Linked DNA regions of Homo sapiens: region 2 is linked to region 1. The links come from fine-mapping of genetic effects on gene expression. Tissue or cell type: whole blood. Region 1 holds a variant in brackets; the other region holds the start of a gene. All regions are shown on one strand. Distances are between the middles of the regions.

Region 1 (11,016 bases):
GAATCGGATCTAGAGTAGAGCCACAAACAATGCCCTCAGGCACCACAGGGTCCGGCCCCTCGCTGCATAGGAAGGCCCAGGAGAGGGTCAGGGCTCACTCAAGCCCCCAGTGATCCCTGAGGCGCCGCGACCTTGAGTCTGCGGTCGCAGCGCCCAGTCCGGGGTTCTCGCAGTGCCGCCTCCACTTCACTGAAGAGCGCTCCTGGCTTTGCGCACAAAGCGCGGGCAGCCTGTGGTGTCACCCTTGGGTCCCCAGCCTGCAGTCTCCTGGAGGACAGGCCTGTGCCCAGCCACATGCGCGGGTGAATCCTGAGCGCCCCAAGGGGGGTTCCCAGACTTTAGTTCCGCGGTGGCTTCCGGCTCCCGTCTTGAGGGTCTGAAGGTGTGGGACTTGGCCCCCTGGGAGTGGCGGCGGTAGCGGGGGCACAGCGCTGGTTTGTGGAGGCCACGGTAGTGGGAAAGCAGCACTGCACTTGGGAATCAGATGAGCCATCGGCAGACCCCGGCTCACACCTCTGCCGGGTGCTCCTGGGCCAGAACTTTGGGTTCTCAGCCTCGGTGACAGACACCCTGAGACTGCTGGGAAAGACGCAGAGATGATGGGCCGTAGGTAGATCTGCTCTACCCATAGCAGCTCGGTCAGAGCAGGGTAGACCCGAGGGCTCCAGGAACTCGTGGAGCGGGGACTGACCTGTCTCCCTGCCCAGTCCCAGGACTCACGTCTTCCTCCTCCCTCTAGGGCCCCGGGCAGGAGGGACAGCACTGCTGGTGCCCACTGTGAGGGCTGGGAGGGACCACGTGGGGACGGCAAGAAACCCTCAGGAGGGAGCCTGTATTCTATTCAGGGAAATGAGCGGACACTTTGCCTGCCAGTTCTCCTCCCCTAGCCCTGGGAGGGAGAAGGGTCCCCATCTCACAGTTGAGAGAGCCACTGGCTCAGGGTCACAGCTCACGAGGAGGGGGCTCTTCCTATCACCCCTCCTCAGGGGCAACATCCCCACACAAACTCACACATCAGGGGCTCCTGGCCTTAGCGCTGCTGAGGACCAGCATTTCGTGTGCTCCTCAGCCTCAAAATGTAGCCTCACCTGGAAGGGGAGGGTCACTGTCCCCACCTGTGACAGGGCCAGAGGGTGGGGTCCTCCCCACCCCTGGACTGTGATAGGAAGTGGGAGACCGTGTGCCTGCCCCCTCGCTGCAAGGCCAGGGCCCTCCCCACCATCCTCCCCAACGGACGTGGTGGCCAGAGCCCTCGGCCCCAGTGGGCACACTTGGCTCTGCTGCTGCCCTGGCCCCTGCCCTCTGGTTCAGCCACCACTGGGAGCCAAGGACAGCCAAAGGAGTTGGTCTCCTGTGTCGAAGGGATAGCGTGACCTCCCTTCAGGGCGAGATCATGGTGACAGCACTGTGGTCAGCACTCAAGGATGAATGGCCTCTGTGGGGCTGACCCCTGCTGACCCCCGCTGACTAGGCAGGCCTGGAGCTGCAGATCCAACAAGGGCCCTTAAAGGGCTCTGCTAGCACAGGGGGGAGGGCAGGGAGTGAGAGACCGCCTGCAAAGAGGCAACTGTCTCCTTAGTTACTGGACTCAGTGCTGCAACTTCTCTTTTGCATTTCCGTTTTTGCTTTTTTTGAGTCCAGTGTGAAAGGAAAATAAAAACGTGGGACCGTAATTCACTGTGCTAAAAGGAAATACTTAAGATGAGAATAGACTCATGCAAGAAGCTGCGTTTCCTTATGTTCTTAAGCAGATAGCTACAGCGAAAGGGCCAGACAGGCCAGGCACGGTGGCTTCACGACTGTAATCCCAGCACTTTGAAAGGCCGAGGTGGAAGCATTGCTTGAGCCCAAGAATTCACGGCCAGCCTGGGCAGCATGGTGAAACCTCTGTCTACAAAAAATACAAAAATTAGCTGGGTGTGGTGGCGCACACCTGTGGTTCCAGCTACTCGGGAGGCTGAGGCTGCAGTGAGCCAAGATCGAGATCACGCCACTGCACTCCATCCTGGGTAAGCGTGAGATCCTGTCCAAAAAACAAAACAAAACAAAAAGGCCAGCTATCTCCACAGGTAGCTACTCTGTGTTCACTGTATCTTACGTAAAGTGAGGATTTAGTGCGTACAAGTCAAATACCTAATTGACTACTCCCCTACCTGCTCCTTTTCTCTCGCAACCTGTGGATTCAGTCGTGTGACCACACCCTCCCCCTTCCCCCTCCAGCCCACTTTTCCCCTTTAAATACAGAAGCTCTCAAAATCATCTTTGGAGAAAGGCACAGACCTCTCTCTCTCAGGTGTGTCCTGAGTCTTGGCAAAATACACTTCTAAATTAATTGAGGTCTGTCTCAGGTACTTTTTAGTTTGCACTCTAGTATTTATGCAGATGGACTATTTTATGTTTATAACCAACCCTTAGGAGAGAGGTCCAGTTATGATCTCCATTTACATCTAAAGATACCAACGTGTGAGACTGAGTAACTCGCCCAAGGACACACAGCCGGGGCTGACACAGCAGGACTCCCTGCAAGTACGCAGACAATACATAACTTTTTTTTTTGAGACGGAGTCTTGCTGTCACCCAGGCTGGAGTGCAGTGGCGCGATCTCAGATCACCACAACCTCTGCCTCCCGGGTTCAAGTGATTCTCCTGCCTCAGCCTCCGGAGTAGCTGGGATTACAGGCGCCTGTCATTATGCCTGGCTAATTTTTGTAGTTTTAGTAGAGACGGGGTTTCACCATGTTGGCCAGGTTGGTCTCGGAACTCCTGACCTCAGGTGATCCGCCCACCTTGGCCTCCCAAAGTGCTGGGTTAACAGGCATGAGCCACCGTGCCCAGAGACAATACGTAACTTAATGAGTGGGATTTTGTGAGATGGAGGTTTCAGTGTTAAATGGACTCTGCAGTCAGTGCCCAAGGTGAATTCGGGCTCCAGCATCCACCAAGTGTGAGACTGCAAGTGCCTAATGCCCCATTGTGCCTCAGTTTACTCATCTGTAAAACAGAGCAGCTGTAGCTCCCTCATAGGGTTGCTAGTTAACACTCAAGAGCGCTTAGAATGCGTGGCAGCCAGTAAGCCCTCAGTGTCAGCTGTTGACTATGACTAGCACAGACAATAGCAACGCCAACCAAACGTTAGGTGGCAGCATCATTACCAGCTTGATAATTGAGGCAACCGTCCCTGAACATGCTATTAATTAACCACACCAGTGGCACAAGGCTAGCAGCGGGCTCTGAAACGACAGCTCATTTCCTAATCTCTGCGTTCACAACAGTGGCCAGCTTGTGACGCCATCCGACTGGCTGCTTTCAAGAGGAACCAGGGGCAGGGGCTTCCTTTCTGTTCCTGGACTGCTGGTAGATGCAGGCCTCCTGGGCACTGCCACAGCCACTCATGGCCAGAGTGGCATCTGTAGTGGCAGCAGCAGCAGGCACACAGGGCAGTGGCCAGAGCACTTTCAGTGAAAAAGGCAGAAGCCTTTACACTCCACCCCGGGCTGTTCTAAAAATACTTAGCTGTGGTGTCAGAATTCCTGGCCCGAGAGGGGAGGACTGCCTGAGCTCCGGGAGGTGGAGGCTGCAGTGAACCGAGATGACATCACTGCACTCCTGCAAATCGGTGGGGTAAGGACTTTAAAAATGGTGTTGGGGGGTGGGCCAACTACATCCTTTAGGGCCTGTGCTATTGCCAGGTGCAATGGCTCAGGCCTGTAATCCCAGCACTTTGGGAGGCTGAGGTGAGGAGGATGGATTGAGGCCAAGTAATTGAGACCAGCCTGGGCAACCCTGTTCCTACAAAAAATTAAAAAATGAGCTGGGCATGGTGAGGTGTGCTTATAGTCCCAGCTATTAGGGAGGCTGAGGCAGGAGGATCACTAGGCCCAGGAGTTTGAGATGACAGTGATCATGCCACTGCACTCCAGCCTAGGTGACACAGTGAGACTGTCTCCAAAAAGGAGCTATGCACAGATTTCAAAAATTTTTTGCACCAAAATAAACTTGTACTAACTTGTTATAACATGTCTTAAGATCTACTTTGAGGCACTAAGAAGGGTATGACTGTTTGAAAAGAGCACCTATCAGAGCAACATGAATTCTGCTAAAAATGGAAGCAAGGACATCAAATTTATGGTGATGCTTGGGTGGAAGAATGGTGAGATCAGTGATTTTTTTTTTTTTTTTTCCTGAGACAGAGTCTCGCTCTGTTGCCCAGGCTGGAGTGCAGTGGCGTGATCTCGGCTCACTGCAGCTTCCGCCTCTCAGGTTCAAGCAATTCTCTTGCCTCAGCCTCCTGAGTAGCTGGGACTACAGGCACATGCCACCACGCCTGGCTAATTTTTTTGTATTTTTAATAAAGACAGGGTTTCACCATGTTGGCCAGGATGGTCTCGATCTCCTGACCTCGTGATCCACCCACCTCAGCCTCCCAAAGTGCTAGGAATACAAGCGTGAGCCACCACACCTGGCCCAAAATCAATGATTTTTTTACAAAAAAGCTTATGGGGACAATGCCCCGCCCCCAGCCAAAATCAGAGGTTTGCCAATGGGTAACTTGTTTTAAGAAGGGATGAGACAATGGTGAAGACCTCCTCATCAATTTGTGAGGAAAAAATTAATCTTATTCATGCCTGAATCAAAGAGGACCAATGATTAACAGCAGAAACAACACCCAACACCACAGACACCTCAGATGGTTCAGCTTACACGATCTGACTGAAAAATTAACGTTGAGCAAACTTGCCACTCAATGGCTACCAAACCACTGCACTCAGATCAGCTGGAGACAGCAGCAGAGCTTTCAGGGGAAACTTTCAACAAGAGGAATCAACATCCTAAAGCATTTCCTCTGAGAACTGTAACAGGAGATGGAACATGGCTTTACCAGCACAATCCTGAAGACAATGTGATTGTGATCACAGCACTGGCTACCGAGAGGTGGGAGGGGTCTCCTCATAGCAAATGCAGACTGGTCAAAAGCAGAGGCCAGGCAACCATTTTCTGGGATGCTCAAAGCACTGTGTATGTGCTGACTTTCCAGATGCCCAAAGAATGTTAACATCTGCTTATGACGAGTGTTTTGAGAAAGTTAGCCAAAGCTGTGGCAGAACAATGCCTAGGAAAGTTTCACCAGAGCCCTTTTCCACCATGACAGTGCTCCTCCTGCTCATTCCTCTCAGCAAACGAGAGCCATTTTCCAAGAGTTTTGATGGGAAATCATCAGGCATCCACTTTGCAGTCCTGATTGGGCTTCTTCTGACTTTTTGTTTCCTAATCTTAAAAAGCTGTAAAGGGCACCCATTTCTCTTCAGTTCACAATGCAGAGACTACACTGACAAGGTGAAATTTCCAGGAGCCTCAGTTCTTTAGGGATAGACTGAATGGTTGGTATTATGTCTTATAGTAGTATCTTGAACTTGATGGAACTTATGTTGAGAAATAAAGTTTATATTTTTTTATTTTTCTTTTAATTCCATTTTCCATGAACTTTTAAAAGTCCCCTCATACATGTTTACAGATGTCCATAGAAACGTTATTCAGATACTGAATAAACAACCAAAAAAACATTGTTTTATCAATGAGGAACCTGTTAAATCTACATAATACAGCTATAAAAATAATTATGTAGTTCTATAATTACCGACATGAAGACATCTGAGTAAAAACCTATTTCTGATGTTATAGAAGAACAAGTATAGTACACTCTTGAATGTAAATTTCTCTGTGTATGCATTCATATATACTGTACATTCAGAATCCTGGAAAGGGGCTTGCACAGATGTTACCAGTGTATGTCTCAGAGTGACAGAAGGACATATGAGTTTTCCTTTTCCCTTATACTTCTTTAAAAACACACTGATTTTTTTTGCACAATGAATATCAATCATATTAACATATAAAGATTTAATTTTTTCCCCAGAAGAAAACAAAAAGATTGAGCTTTGTGTACCATCCACGGACAAAAATGCTATGTGTTTTGCAGACTCAGGTAGTAGTCCCTGCGTGTGCTGGGGGTGAGATGGGGAGGAGCCGCTGATTTCTCAGCAGGCCACACCACTTTCTTCCCTAGCAAAGCTGCACAATGTTTTCAGCAGTGTCTGCAATGAGAGCTAAATGACCTCCATCTAGAACAAATGTAACCTGGGCACTTGCTCTTCCACGGATGCTCATGAGTAAAAGGAAGCTGGAGTTCTTTACAAAAGAAGCTTTGCTATGAGAAATAAAAACAACAAACTGTTTTTTACAATTTTTATTTGGTGTTAACTCCACAAGAAAACAAACAAAAAAAAATCAGTTACTCTGGTGTACGTGAAATCAGAACAATACAACCACGGGAAAAACAATCTCAGCCCAGGAATGGAAACTGGTACTTCAGTGCTATGGAAATGCAATGCGCTTCATACCACAGTGCGTTTCAGCGTTTGCCAACTTTTTAAAAATGCTTTTTCTTTGTGATCATCCATTCACAAAACTAAAAAGCCACACTTTCATCTCTGTTGCTGAAAGCCTCTGAGCTTCAGCTACTTAACTATGAAAACAAATAAATACATAATTTGTGAATCCCTTTGCTCACTTCGAATCCGTCCCATTCACCTGTGGAAGGTGCTGCATCTTCTCACCTGTGTCTGAGGAAGTGTGCACCTTTGCCACCTGGAGCCCTTTCCTAATAAACAGCAGCTGTCCAAAATCAACTGTGCTCAAGGTTGTGTCTGAAATCTATTTATTTGGTCTTTGCTACACAAGCAACGATTTCTAGAATAATCGTCACTGTAGTGATATGAGGAATTTACAACTTTCAATCCTTTTTTACTTTTGCTGTTAAATTATATTTCAGTGCAGATGCTTATCAATTTTTAGGAAGCTCCAGAAGAATGAAAAATACATAAAAACGTATCTGAAGTTCGTAAATAAATAACAGCAACATAAAACCTTACACATGCGCGCGCGCACGCGCGCACACACACACACACACAC[ACACC/C]CACCCACCTTAAAGTGTCAAAAAATGTGTTGTATAAAAATAAACCCTAACACGTGGGAAGATCGACCCGGCGGGCACACCAGGTCCCTCTCGGTGAGGACACACAGACCCTCAATGACTCCACAGTCTTTGATGGTACTTTCTTTTCTGTGTTATCAATTAAGAAAAAGGCAACAAAACCCAAATGTTCAAAGCAAATCATAGATTTCACAGCCAGTTCAGCTCCCAGCTAATAAATTATATGTGTGTTTACTGCCTGCCCAAATGAGTGGTGAAGCTGTCTAGAGCGCATCAGACTTTTCTGCCATTCCTGATGCTCCAGGCATGCTACGCTGATTTCACAGATTAGGTTTTTTTTGTTTTTGTTTTTTAAACAATGAGTTGGTTAAAAAAGAAAAACAATGTAAAAAATGTAAAATGTTTCGGCTGTGCACATACTGCTCCTCCTGGCCTCTGCCTGTGGCACAATGCCATGAGAGCCGGAGGAGCGGATCGCCATGCACAGACGCGACTCACAAGATGCGCCGGCTCCCCGGGCTCACCAAGGAGAAACGGGAGCCAGTCCCACGGAGCGACAGTCAGCAAAACCACCACACAGGGATGTGGAAAACTCATGACTCTACCCGCCCCAACCCACCACACACAGAACTTGCCCAGAACATTCTCTCAAACACAAAATGAGATCGAAGCTATACTACATCACAGCCAAGAAGCGGCTAGCTGCAGCAGCCAAAGATTTCTCTGGGTGATGAGGTGGCCTTTACTGCATGTCAAATGTTCACAATTTCAAGTTTTGGGGGTTTCAATTCAACATAGGTCACCAGAAAGTAACAATCTGTAACTAAGGTCCTTAGCACGTATGGAACACTCACCACAAAGAACCCTGCATGGGGTTTTGGTGTAAATGTAACTGCAGTATGAGAGCAGGTAAGGGGTGGGGTATGCACCCTTACCCCACTGTGTCTCGCATACGACCCCACACCCCAAATCCTTGGCTTCTTCAGTTAGCAAGAAAGTCACGAACCATAGTATCTTCCGTGATACTTTAGGGGAAAAGAAATCCTAAGAGAGAAAACACAGTATTTGGTGAGTCTTGAAAAGCACACCTCTGCGGTTCCTACTGGAAATGTACATGAGATTTTGCTGAATGGAGACCACCGCTGAGTCACCCAGGCTTCCCTCTCGCCTTCAGAAAGGCATCAAGCCACTGTAGGGTAAGAATGGATATCCCAGTTCTTGGAGAACAAAGCCTAAATGCTCCAAAGCTGAAGTCTCTGAAGAGCAGAAGTGGTTGTTGACACTGCAATGCTAGTAAGGTCATAGTGATATAACCGCAGTCGGAAGGAAAATTAACTGCAGTTAAGATGCAAAAAGCAGTGATACTTCTAAGACAAGCACATGCACACCCATTCTTGATTTGACAACACAATCTAGTCTATTTCAAATAGCCAAGAATTTAACAGCTGGGAAAAAAAATCTTTAACAGGATAGCTGTCCTCAACTCTAAAATAAGCAAGAAGAGAAAGATAATTATTACCAATCTGAATCAGTTAATTGAAGAGGAAACCTAAGTTGTTGTTTTAGATTAACAGGTCTCACTGAAGAGTAATTTTCCATCACATATCATTTTTAAACAATAATTTGTACTATTTTGCAGGTTTAGAGATGAGTTCGAGAAAAGAGCTCCTCTTCACTAGGGCCCACCCACTCGCCTCCGCCTTCTGAGCCTGTCTCTTCCGAGGTGGAGCTGGCGCTGGAGCACATCTTTCCGCGGAAGCCATCTGACTTTGCTCCAGAATCTCTCTCTCCTGTACATCTTGCTTCATAAACAGAAGACACCTAAGATTAAAACAATTTTCAACACATCAAAAAGACTTTTTTTTCCCCAAAAGGGTGAGATACTCTATCTATATACAAAGAAGAAATAATAAATCATCAGTGTTTTCCTGTGGAGTTACAAACATGCAGAGTTTTACTGTTTCAGAGCAAAACCGCCTCTCTTCTCTGATCCATGAAGGATCCAAAATCCTAATTCCACATGTTCAGTCACTTGGACAAAATGTTAGCCATGTTAGGGTAGGATAAAGAATTATTTCATTTTCAAAGTCTTTGAGTACCTGCTATGCACCAGGAACTTTACTGGGCACAGGGACTCCAGCAGTGGAAGGCGCATGCCAGGCTCGCTGGGGAGATGAACGAGCAAACCAACATGTGCCAGTTGCAGTGACACAGTACCGATGGTGAGGGGGGCACTGCAGACGGGTGTGTTGGGAAGGGAGTTTGCAGTGACACAGTACAGATGGTGAGGCGACACTACAGACCTGTGTGTTGGGAAGGGAGTTTGCAGTGACACAGTACAGATGGTGAGGGGACACTGCAGACCTCTGTGTTGGGAAGGGAGTTTGCAGTGACACAGTACAGATGGTGAGGGGACACTGCAGACCTCTGTGTTGGGAAGGGAGTTTGCAGTGACACAGTACAGATGGTGAGGCGACACTACAGACCTGTGTGTTGGGAAGGGAGTTTGCAGTGACACAGTACAGATGGTGAGGGGACACTGCAGACCTCTGTGTTGGGAAGGGAGTTTGCAGTGACACAGTACAGATGGTGAGGCGACACTACAGACCTGTGTGTTGGGAAGGGAGTTTGCAGTGACACAGTACAGATGGTGAGGGGGCACTGCAGACGGGTGTGTTGGGAAGGGAGTTTGCAGTGACACAGTACAGATGGTGAGGGGACACTGCAGACCTGTGTGTTGGGAAGGGAGTTTGCAGTGACACAGTACAGATGGTGAGGGGGGGCACTGCAGATGGGTGTGTTGGGAAGGGAGTTCTTTGGAGAAGAGGCCCGCTCAGCTGAGAAGCCAGCCATGCAGAGGTGCCAACACTCTGTGGTGTCGGACTGTCTCCCCTACACCAGATGGTCAGCATCTCTGGACCCCAGGACATGAGATGCAGTGGTGGCCCCTCCTCAGTCACAGTCATTACAAAGCTCCCCTCACCCTGCCATAGTAACTAGCAGCACTCCCACCTCATTTCCAAATGGCAGCATTGCCCCTGGTTGAGAACCCCTGAGGCAGAAGCACAGAAAAGCCACACAGAGTAAGGGGAGAGCAGAGACAGATGAGGTCAAAGGCAGACGGGGGCAAAACATACAGGGCTGTAGAGGCGTGGCGGGGAGTTTGGATCTGTCTCAAATGCAACAGCAAAGTGACATCATGGTTAGCAGTATGGGTCCTAGAGGCAGACTGCTGAGGTTCAGAGTTCAGGTCCACACTGAAGCTGTGGCTCTCTGGCCTCGGATACACGGCGCCTGATGTTTTTGTGCTTCACTTTCCTATTTTGCAGAACAGGCATGACAACAGTACCTACCTCACAGGGTCGTTGTGAGGACTGAACAAGATACTGCTCGTGAGGTCATTCTGTCTGCTGTGTGGAGAGAAGGCTGGAAAGGATGACGAAAGCAGGAAGGACAATGAAAAGACCATGGCAGCTGTTCAGGAGCAGGGACAGTGGCTTGAACAAAGTGGTAATGATGGAGAGGAGGAGAAGTGGGAGATGCGAAGTGGCTGACAGCGGGGAACGGTCAGGACTGGCAGGCAGACTGTGTGTGGAAGATGAGAGAGAGGACTGGGGAATATGTCTCAGTTTGGGGTTTGAGGCTGGAGGGATGATGTGAACTAGTCACTGAGGAGAGAGCTGGTGGGGGCCTCAAACATCTGCCTTCATGTGTGGAGCCGGACAGGTCAGTGGGCAGCAGGACGTGGACGATGATGCTACAGGTGCTTGGGCAGACAGTTCTCACAGGACTTGAATGGACACTGACAGATGGTTAATACTGAGTGTCAACTTGATCACATGCCGTGTGATTCAAGTTAACGGGAAACTACAACAGCCCAGTCCAGACAGGATACAAATGGCTCAGACTCTTTAGGAATGAAGGTTTAGGTCACTCCACCGGGAAAAAACCACAACCTGCTGAGGTGCTTGCTGAAGGCAAAGGGAATACAGAATGGGTAGTAGAAGAAGGTAGTCATCAATACC
Region 2 (8,000 bases), 100 kb after region 1:
ATATTAACATACTCTTTAAGGTTGATTACAGACTTTGACTTTATTTAGCAAACATTTAAACACTTACATTTAACATTAAGCACTTATGTTTAAACGCCTGAGCAAGGTGTTGGGGGCAAAATGATAGGATAGACACCACAGCCAGAGTTTACTATGACCAATTTATAATACAACATGATATAGACAATAATGAAGGAAAAATAGAGAACTATGATTGAGGAAAGGAATAATTCATTGTAATAGGACTTCCAAAGGACTCCAGAGAGAACAGAATATTTGATATGAACTTTTAAGAACTGGAGGGAGTGGGAGTGAGACAGGACATTCCAATAAGAGAAAAGAATATAAGCAAAGAAGGTCTGAAATAGCTTGGCATGTTCAGAGAACCAAGAGCAGTCTTGTTTAGCTGGACAGTGTGGAAAGGGGACAAAGAGGACAAGATAAAGTACAGAGATGACTGGGGGCCAGACTGCAAGGGGCCTGCATTGTGATGCTGGTATCTCTGAATTCTAAGCTCCAAACCACAGGCAGTCTTAGAAGCCTACTGAGCCAGAGACTGACAAGATCTGAGCTCAGGAAAGATGACTCTGGCAGCCAGGCAAAGAATGGATAGGAAGGGGTGGCGAGGAGCCTGAAGACAAAGTTAAAAACTTTAAGCAAAGCAAGTAATCTGAGGTTTTAACACTTACACTAGGCGAGTATTTTTAAAGGGTTTGAGTCTTGACGACATTTCACGTCTTCCCTCAAGTGATCATCCCAACTATTCTGTGAAACAGGTGTCATCAATCTTCCCATTCTACAGATGAGGAAATTAGCTCACAAGCCATTAACTGCCAAGTCAAATGCTACAAAAACAAGGACAAAGCGCAGGCTCAGCACTTTTCCACACAATGAAAAATAAAGAACAAGAACAATCTAATTTCTTTTGAAGAGTGCTACCGTACAACATAGCACAGAGTAGGCTAGCTACATTACCCTATATTACCACTGGAAGTGTTAAAAATCCATCTAATCAGCCAGGCGCGGTGGCTCACGCCTGTAATCCCAGCACTTTGGGAGGCTGAGGCAGGCGGATCACGAGGTCAGGAGAGAAAGACCATCCTGGCTAACACGGTGAAGCCCCATCTCTACTAAAAATGCAAAAAATTAGCCGGGGGTGGTGGCATGCACCTGTAGTCCCAGCTACTCGGGAGGTTGAGGCAGGAGACTCGCTTGTACCCGGCGGGCGGAGGTTGCAGTGAGTGAGCCGAGATCGCGGACTCCAGCCTGGGCGGCAGAGCGAGACTCCGTCTCAAAAAAAAAAAAAAAAAAAATTCATCTGATCTTCTTAAATGTTTGCAACTTGCATAACAAGCTAATTATCCTTAGATTTGACTTCTGTTAACGTCATGTTAAAGACCTATACTTTTTCTCCAAAGCAAACAAAAAAGCACCTGCACTTTGAATTCTACTTCCTATGGAAATAAATAAGAATAATATTCTCCCTTCCCTTCAATGTTTAAAAACTGGCATTTCACTGATGTAACGGGCTTACATAAAAACCATTATACCCAAGGAAGCTGTAAACCACTTTTTGAATGATTAAAAATGCATTATTTAGCAAGTACAGCAATTGAATCTGAGTTATAAGATATATTAAGTGAAAGGAGCTTCTATAGATATGCAAAGGCACACTCTCGGAAATAGGTTCTGTCATAAGGAAGCGACATAGAGATCCTGAGACCTATTTAAGAATGGTTCAATCCAAAATAACTGATGGAAGAATATTTGACCTTGAGGATGCAGAGTGATAGAATCCGCTCCTCCTCCCCCCCCGCCCTCACCCGCCTTTAAATTCTAAGTCCACGAAATGGTCAAAGTGTTCTGGAACGGGTCTTATTTTGCATAGGAAGAATCTAGCTTGGGCATTTTACCGCACAGTTTTATCCACAGCATCGCCTATTACCAAAACTGCTTGTCCCTACCCCCTCACGAGCTTTCTAACAGTTTTTAAAACAAGACCCAGAAATGTAAAATCCCTTCTTAGGAACTTGAACAGTAAGTCAAAGTATCCAACCCAGGTAATTATTAGCAAGAACTACATTTATATAATTTTTTCCAAAGAATCTCGCATGCCTCCTCTCCGCTGAATCTCCCTCCTGTTTTTAACTGGGTTAAATCTTTATAGCTTGCCTATAGAGGACAAAAACGGAAAGGTGGCAAAAAAGAAATCAAGACAGTTCTGCCATGATTTAGGGGTCTGTACCAAGAGTTCGGCAGGTCCTGTCACCTGCGCACCACAAGACGCAAGCTGAATTCTAGGGCAAGACGAAGCATTCCAACACGACACACACTGGTTTCTCCAGCGGGAAGAAGCAGAGAGCTCTAGAAATGCCGGCTGCAGACGCGTATTGTTGGAAAGGAGCCGGATCAGGCCCCGCAGCAACTCGGGGCGCCCTCGCGACAGGGTTTGCCGCGCAGCGCACGGATGACTGTGGGCCTGTCACTCCTAGCTCCAGCTGTAACCTTCGCCAAACCTTGCGCCGCACCGGCCCCGCCCGCCAGGCCCGCCCCCCGCGCCGCGCCCCGCGCCATAGGCCGGCGCGCCAGTCGCTCAGCCGGCCTCCCGGCCCCGCCCGCCTGCGGCCCTCCTCCCCCGCCCGGCGGTTTTCCCTTCCCGGGGCCCCAAAAGGACAATGCTGGAGGGGAGGGGAACGGAGGGAACGCGAGCGAGCGGCCCAGGCTGCCGGCCTGACCCCGCTGCCGGGGACGCCGGGCGCCTCCCACCGGCCGAAGCCTTCCTCCCGCGCCCACTTTCGGGGCTCTACGTCCTATCAAGTCTAAGCACCCCCGCCTCGTCTCCCCTAGAAGAGCCGCCCCGGCGCGGCGACACCTGCCCCAGGCAGGAGGCAGCCAACGGCAACCCATTGTGCGGACTCATCGTCCACAGCCCACCCGGGCGCAAGAGCCGCAAGCTGGTGTCCCGGCGTCCTGGGGTCGGGGCGGGGGTCCCAGGGCCCACAGCTCACCCGCACGCCCGGGCACCACCAGGATCGGGGCCGGTCAGGCCTCCCTCGGCTGGCCCCGGAGCCATCAACAGCGGCCCGGTCTCCCTTAGGCTGGCCCCGGAGCCATCAGCGGCGGCCCGGCCTCCCTCAGGCTGGCCCCGGAGCCCCCGGCGGCGGCCCGGTCTCCCTCAGGCTGGCCCCGGAGCCCTCGGCGGCGGCTCGGCCTCCCTTAGGCTGGCCCCAGAGCCCACGGCGGCGGCCCTGTCTCCCTTGGGCTGACCCCGAAGCCTTCGGCTGCGGCCCGGCCTCCCTCGGGCTGGCCCCGGAGCCCCACGGCGGCGAGCGTCCGGCCTCCCCGGCCCGCGCCCACCCGGCCGAGGGGCTGCTCCGCGCCCTCCCTCCCCGCCGCCTGCCCGCAGTACCTGCCGAGGCTGCCGGGCGGCGCGGCGGCCGGCGGGGGCGCCTCTCCTCTGGCTCCGAGGGGCTGCGGGCGGCTGCCGAGCGCCGGGCGGCCCTGGCCTGCGCCTTACGTAAAGCGGCGGCGGCGGCCCCAGCGCCACTCCGCGGAGGGCGGGAGGCGGCGCGCCGGGAGCCGCTCCGCTCCGTTACCCGGCAACTGGCCTCAGCGCCCCGCCAACCAGGGGCGCGCTCCATATCCTTCCGCCCGGGTGCCGGGATTACATCAGCGCCGGCCGGTCCCCGCCCCTGCCCCTCCCTCCGGCTGGGCTGCGGGCGCGCGCGGGCGGTGGGCCGCGGGCTGACGGCGCGAGGGGACAGGCCGGGGCTGGTGCCTGGCGGGTGGGGGTCTAGGGCCCGGGACGCGCCGTGCAGCTTGGCCGGGGCGGCGGAAGCCGCTGGGAGGTGAGAGGGCAAGCAGTAGAGAGGGCAGGCAGGAAGCGGGAGCCCCCCAGCGTGCTGGGCGTCGGAGAGGAGACGTCTCCCGCGGAGGGGCACGTGGGACTGCCCTCGGCAGAAGCCCCCGAACTCTGCCGCCGCGCCCCGCCCCCGGCCCGCGCTGGGGAAGTGGGGCTCGGCGTGCACGGCCCCGCCCGCGGCCCGGTGCAGCCCCCGCCTTCCCGGGCTCGCGCGCCACCTGTCCGCGCCCCCTCCTCGCCGCGTCCTGGGATGGCTGGAGTAGGCGGCTTAAAATAAAGACTTTAATTTTTTGTTGTTGTTGTTAAGGAACCCAGAAGACAAGCTAAAGAAATGTGACATGGCTCTTTTTTTATTAACTAGGCAAAAATAAATTCTGGAAGCTTCGAAAGTGGAAACCAAAAATGTGCATTAACCTTTTAATCAAAGTGTCTTCACAGCCACCTACCTTCCCTAAATGTGACTCCTAGGCCTGTTCTAAAAAAGCAAATAAGTATCATGGACCTGGAAAAGGAAGGGAGATTACTTAGAAGAAAGAGGTCCAATGGGAGGAGTGACTTACCTGGGGTCATTTGTTCATTTATGCAGCACCCACTAGGTGCCAGGCACTATGCTTTTCTGTTCAGAACCTGTTGGAGAATTTCCTGCACCAGCTCACGGGCTTGTGGGAGAAGCAGATGCTGAAACACTGGAGAGGGGTCATCTGCTGAGTTGGCTAGATGCTCCATGCATCCATGGAAGGACAAACCGAGGAACTGTCGCTTACGTACTATCTACAGAGTGTTTTTTCTGCGAACATATCTTTTTGTTCTTTACAAAAATCGTGGGACAAATCTTTGTCATCCGCATTTAACTGGTGAGGAAGCTGAGGCTGAAAGAAAGTGATTTCACCCAAGCCTGGCTGCTACCGAGTGGACAGGGCCTTCTGACCTTGCTAAACCACCTCTTGCAGGAGACAGAATGTGAACCCAGGCTCCTGGCTCTGAAATATGGGGTTTCGTTTCCTTTACACTACTGTCTCCCTTAACCAGTTTGCTTCTAATTGTATTCTCTGAGCATTCGCTCAGGTGAATGTATATCGTCATAAATCACACGTTCATTCAGTCAGTTTCTTCTGAGTGCTTGTTGTGGACCTGGCTCAGTGCCGGGAACGCACAGTCCCTGTGCTCCTGGAACTCAAACTCTAAAAACAGTGTCGAGAATGGAAAGGGTATGGGAAATCCAGGGCCACTTGGGAGTAGAGGAGGGGAGAGTAGCAGAGCTTCAGAGCCTAGTTCACAGGTGCCTCCAGGCTCCAGGATTTCACAGACCAAAGTATGGGGGATTTGCAAAGGATGGTCAGCTTTTGATTTTTGCTACATTGGTGACATATCTGTCATCTACATCATATTTTACAAAAGAGTATTAACAGCAAAATTTTTTGAAAAGTAATAACAGTATATCTCAGTTCTGAAGAAAGGAAACACGGTTGGCACCTGTATAGTGACACACACACACACACACACACACACAGAGTTTATTGACCTTTTTTTTTATTACTTTGCCACAGACCAGTTTTTATACTAGTTCTACCATGAACTAGTAGAACCTGAAGACTTCTTGGAAGAAGAGGTTTTTAAGTAGGAATTATCTTGTATTAATAGGATTTGGAGCTGGTGGGGAAAGATGACAGATTAGGGAAAGAAAGTGTCTTGTTTACTTTGTTTTCTTAACAAAATAGCCTCCTGTCCTCCAAATTATTTTGATAAAAATCCTAGGAGTCTCAGCTGACTCCAACCTTAGGGCCTTTGCATCTGCTGATTTCTGTGAGGAACTCCCTCCCCAGACCTCTGCGTGGCTGGTTCCTTCTTGTTAAAGGCCCTGCTACGATGTCACCTGCCCAGAGACATCTAGATGCCCAGTTTGGAGTAGCCAACCTTCCCAGTCATGATGCCACTGCTATATTTTGTTTCTTTATTCACAGCTCTTATCAGTATCTGAGATCATCTCGTTTGTATGTTTGTTTCCTCATTCATCTCAGCCTCCTCACTCAAGACCTGTATCTCACAAGAGCAGGCATTTTGCCTGTGGTGCTTATTTTCATATGCCCAGAGCCCAGCACGGAGCCTGCCAGTTTGTAGGTGCAGGACTGAACTATCATCTGTGATGTAGTCAGAGTGCACATCAGGGAGAAAACAATCCCACCTTCCCTTGAGCAATCAGGAACAGGGCTCTTCTGCATGAGCCCCTTACCCCCTGTAGTGTGCCACGCTGCCTACGACCTTCCTTCAGGCTCCCGGGTAGAGATCAGCCAACTTAAACTCAGGAGAACAGTAGCTTTCTCCCTCTTGTGGGCTAAGATCCCTAGGGAATGCAAATGAGGCCAGAGGACTCCTGCGTTAAGGCAGGGTTGGTGTGGAGGCGGTAGACTCCCCCTTCAGCATTTTCTGAGAAGAAACCATTGTCTCCTGTGTATGTCTGAGATCATTCATTTCATTTCTCTAGTCTCAGGAGCACCTGCCACAGCTTTTTAACCCCTACAGCCGGGTAAGGCAATGCTGGAGGAAGCTGACGACTCTGAGTGCCCTCTGACTTGGATGTTCGATGCTAGCGAGGATTCTAGCAGCTGCCATCTGGGGCAGTGATTGTGTAATGTGTATGCTTAGTGAACAGCAGGGATGAGGCTGGGTCCGGGATGCTTTGTGATGTCGTGTGGCACACGGACTGACGGCAGGCAGGGGCCAGGCCTCTTCGACTCTGTGATCTTGGGTACATAATCTCCCTCTCTGGGCCTCAGTTTCCCCATCTGCACAACAAGGGACTTGGGCAGGAAGATTTCAAAAATCTCCTTTGTTCTGTGCCTGTGTGTGTGTGTGTGTGTGTGAGAGAGAGAGATTTAGAAACAAAATTTCAATGAAGCTACACTTTGATAAATGATATACAAATCCTCACCTGTCACCTGACACGAGCAATGCCAGCTCCTGTTTACTGACCCCCAGGTGCATGCCAAGTGCTTTGCTCACATTGTCCTTAACTCCCACAATACCAGGCAGGGAAGAGATGATCCCCATTTTGCAGCCACAGAAGCCAAGGCTTCTCTGGAGACTTAGGTGGCTTGCACAGGCCACACTGCTACTAAAAGGCAGCACCAGGATTTCATTTTAGCCCTGTGCTTGCTACTGGGCCACACAGTATCATTAAAATCCATCCTGAGATGACTTTTAAATGAATGAGGCCAAGATAAAACCCTGACCAGATAATCTCCCCATTGCCTCCCCATGGGACCAAGACCCTCACTTGGGATACTAACTAGGCATCTCAGTTCAGATGCTGTCAGTCAAGGTGGCCCACATCATGGCCTTCTCTCTTAACCACCCCAGGCCTGCACCCGCATTCTGACAGCCTCTCCTCTCAGTGGCTCTCCTCTCTTAGGGGTAGTAACATCATTCCAGGCCTAAAGAGAGTTCAAGCCTCTGGCATAGCCCCATGGTCTGACCTTGAGCAAGGCCCTGACCTTCTGAGGGTTTCGGCTTCCTAGTGCAGGAAAAGACAGAGGAATAACGCCTTGTTCCGCTTGCCTATCCCTGTAGGGCCAAACCAGATCAGAGGTGTGGTTGTCTCCTGCTTCCAAATTTGTTCCTCACTTCTATCCCTCCACCCAGTCCATGGAAAATCAACAACGTCATCAGCAATGTCACCAGAAGTAGGGGAGCACGGTGATTAAGCACACTGGCTGATTAGCTCACTGATGTGGGTAAATTACTTAGCCTCTCAGTTTCCTCATCTGTAAAGTGGGCATAATAATAATAGTATCTGCCTCAGAGGGTTGCGGTGAAGGGGTAAGTGAATCCACACAGAGGGTACCCGGCACACAGCAAACACTCAATAAATACCAGCACCCACGACCATCCCTCCTTGAAGCCCCCACTACTTAGCTCTGACTGCCCATCTCCAGGACCCCCTCTTCCTCTGTCCCTCCCATTCCCTCCTTTCTTATCCCTCCTTTCTTATACCTCCTTTCTTATCATTCTGCATACCACTAGGGCAGTCTCCTCCACTCCAGTAGCTGTTAAGTAACATGAAAATGGAAGGACACCTAATATCTCTCCCCTACCCCAGCTTTTCTCCAAGGCCCAGAACCGCCTCCTGGGCTTGTCCGCC

Evidence for each region. PIP is the estimated chance that this variant, and not a neighbour inherited with it, causes the effect.
Region 2: KIAA0232 starts here. The variant in region 1 is fine-mapped to the expression of KIAA0232 in whole blood (INTERVAL, PIP above 0.99).

Annotation. Positions count from the first base shown.
Region 1 is chr4:6,878,583-6,889,598 of GRCh38, reverse strand. It overlaps KIAA0232, which reads right to left. Exons shown (of 10, transcript NM_014743.3): 10 at 5,435-8,812. The coding sequence ends at 8,633. Among named protein-coding and RNA genes, the nearest start is that of TBC1D14, 26 kb to the left of the region's middle. The variant ACACC/C (reference allele first, on the strand shown) is at 6,970.
Region 2 is chr4:6,778,251-6,786,250 of GRCh38, reverse strand. KIAA0232 reads right to left here and starts at 3,524. Exons shown (of 10, transcript NM_014743.3): 1 at 3,410-3,524. RefSeq lists silencers at 2,435-3,204, 3,265-4,144.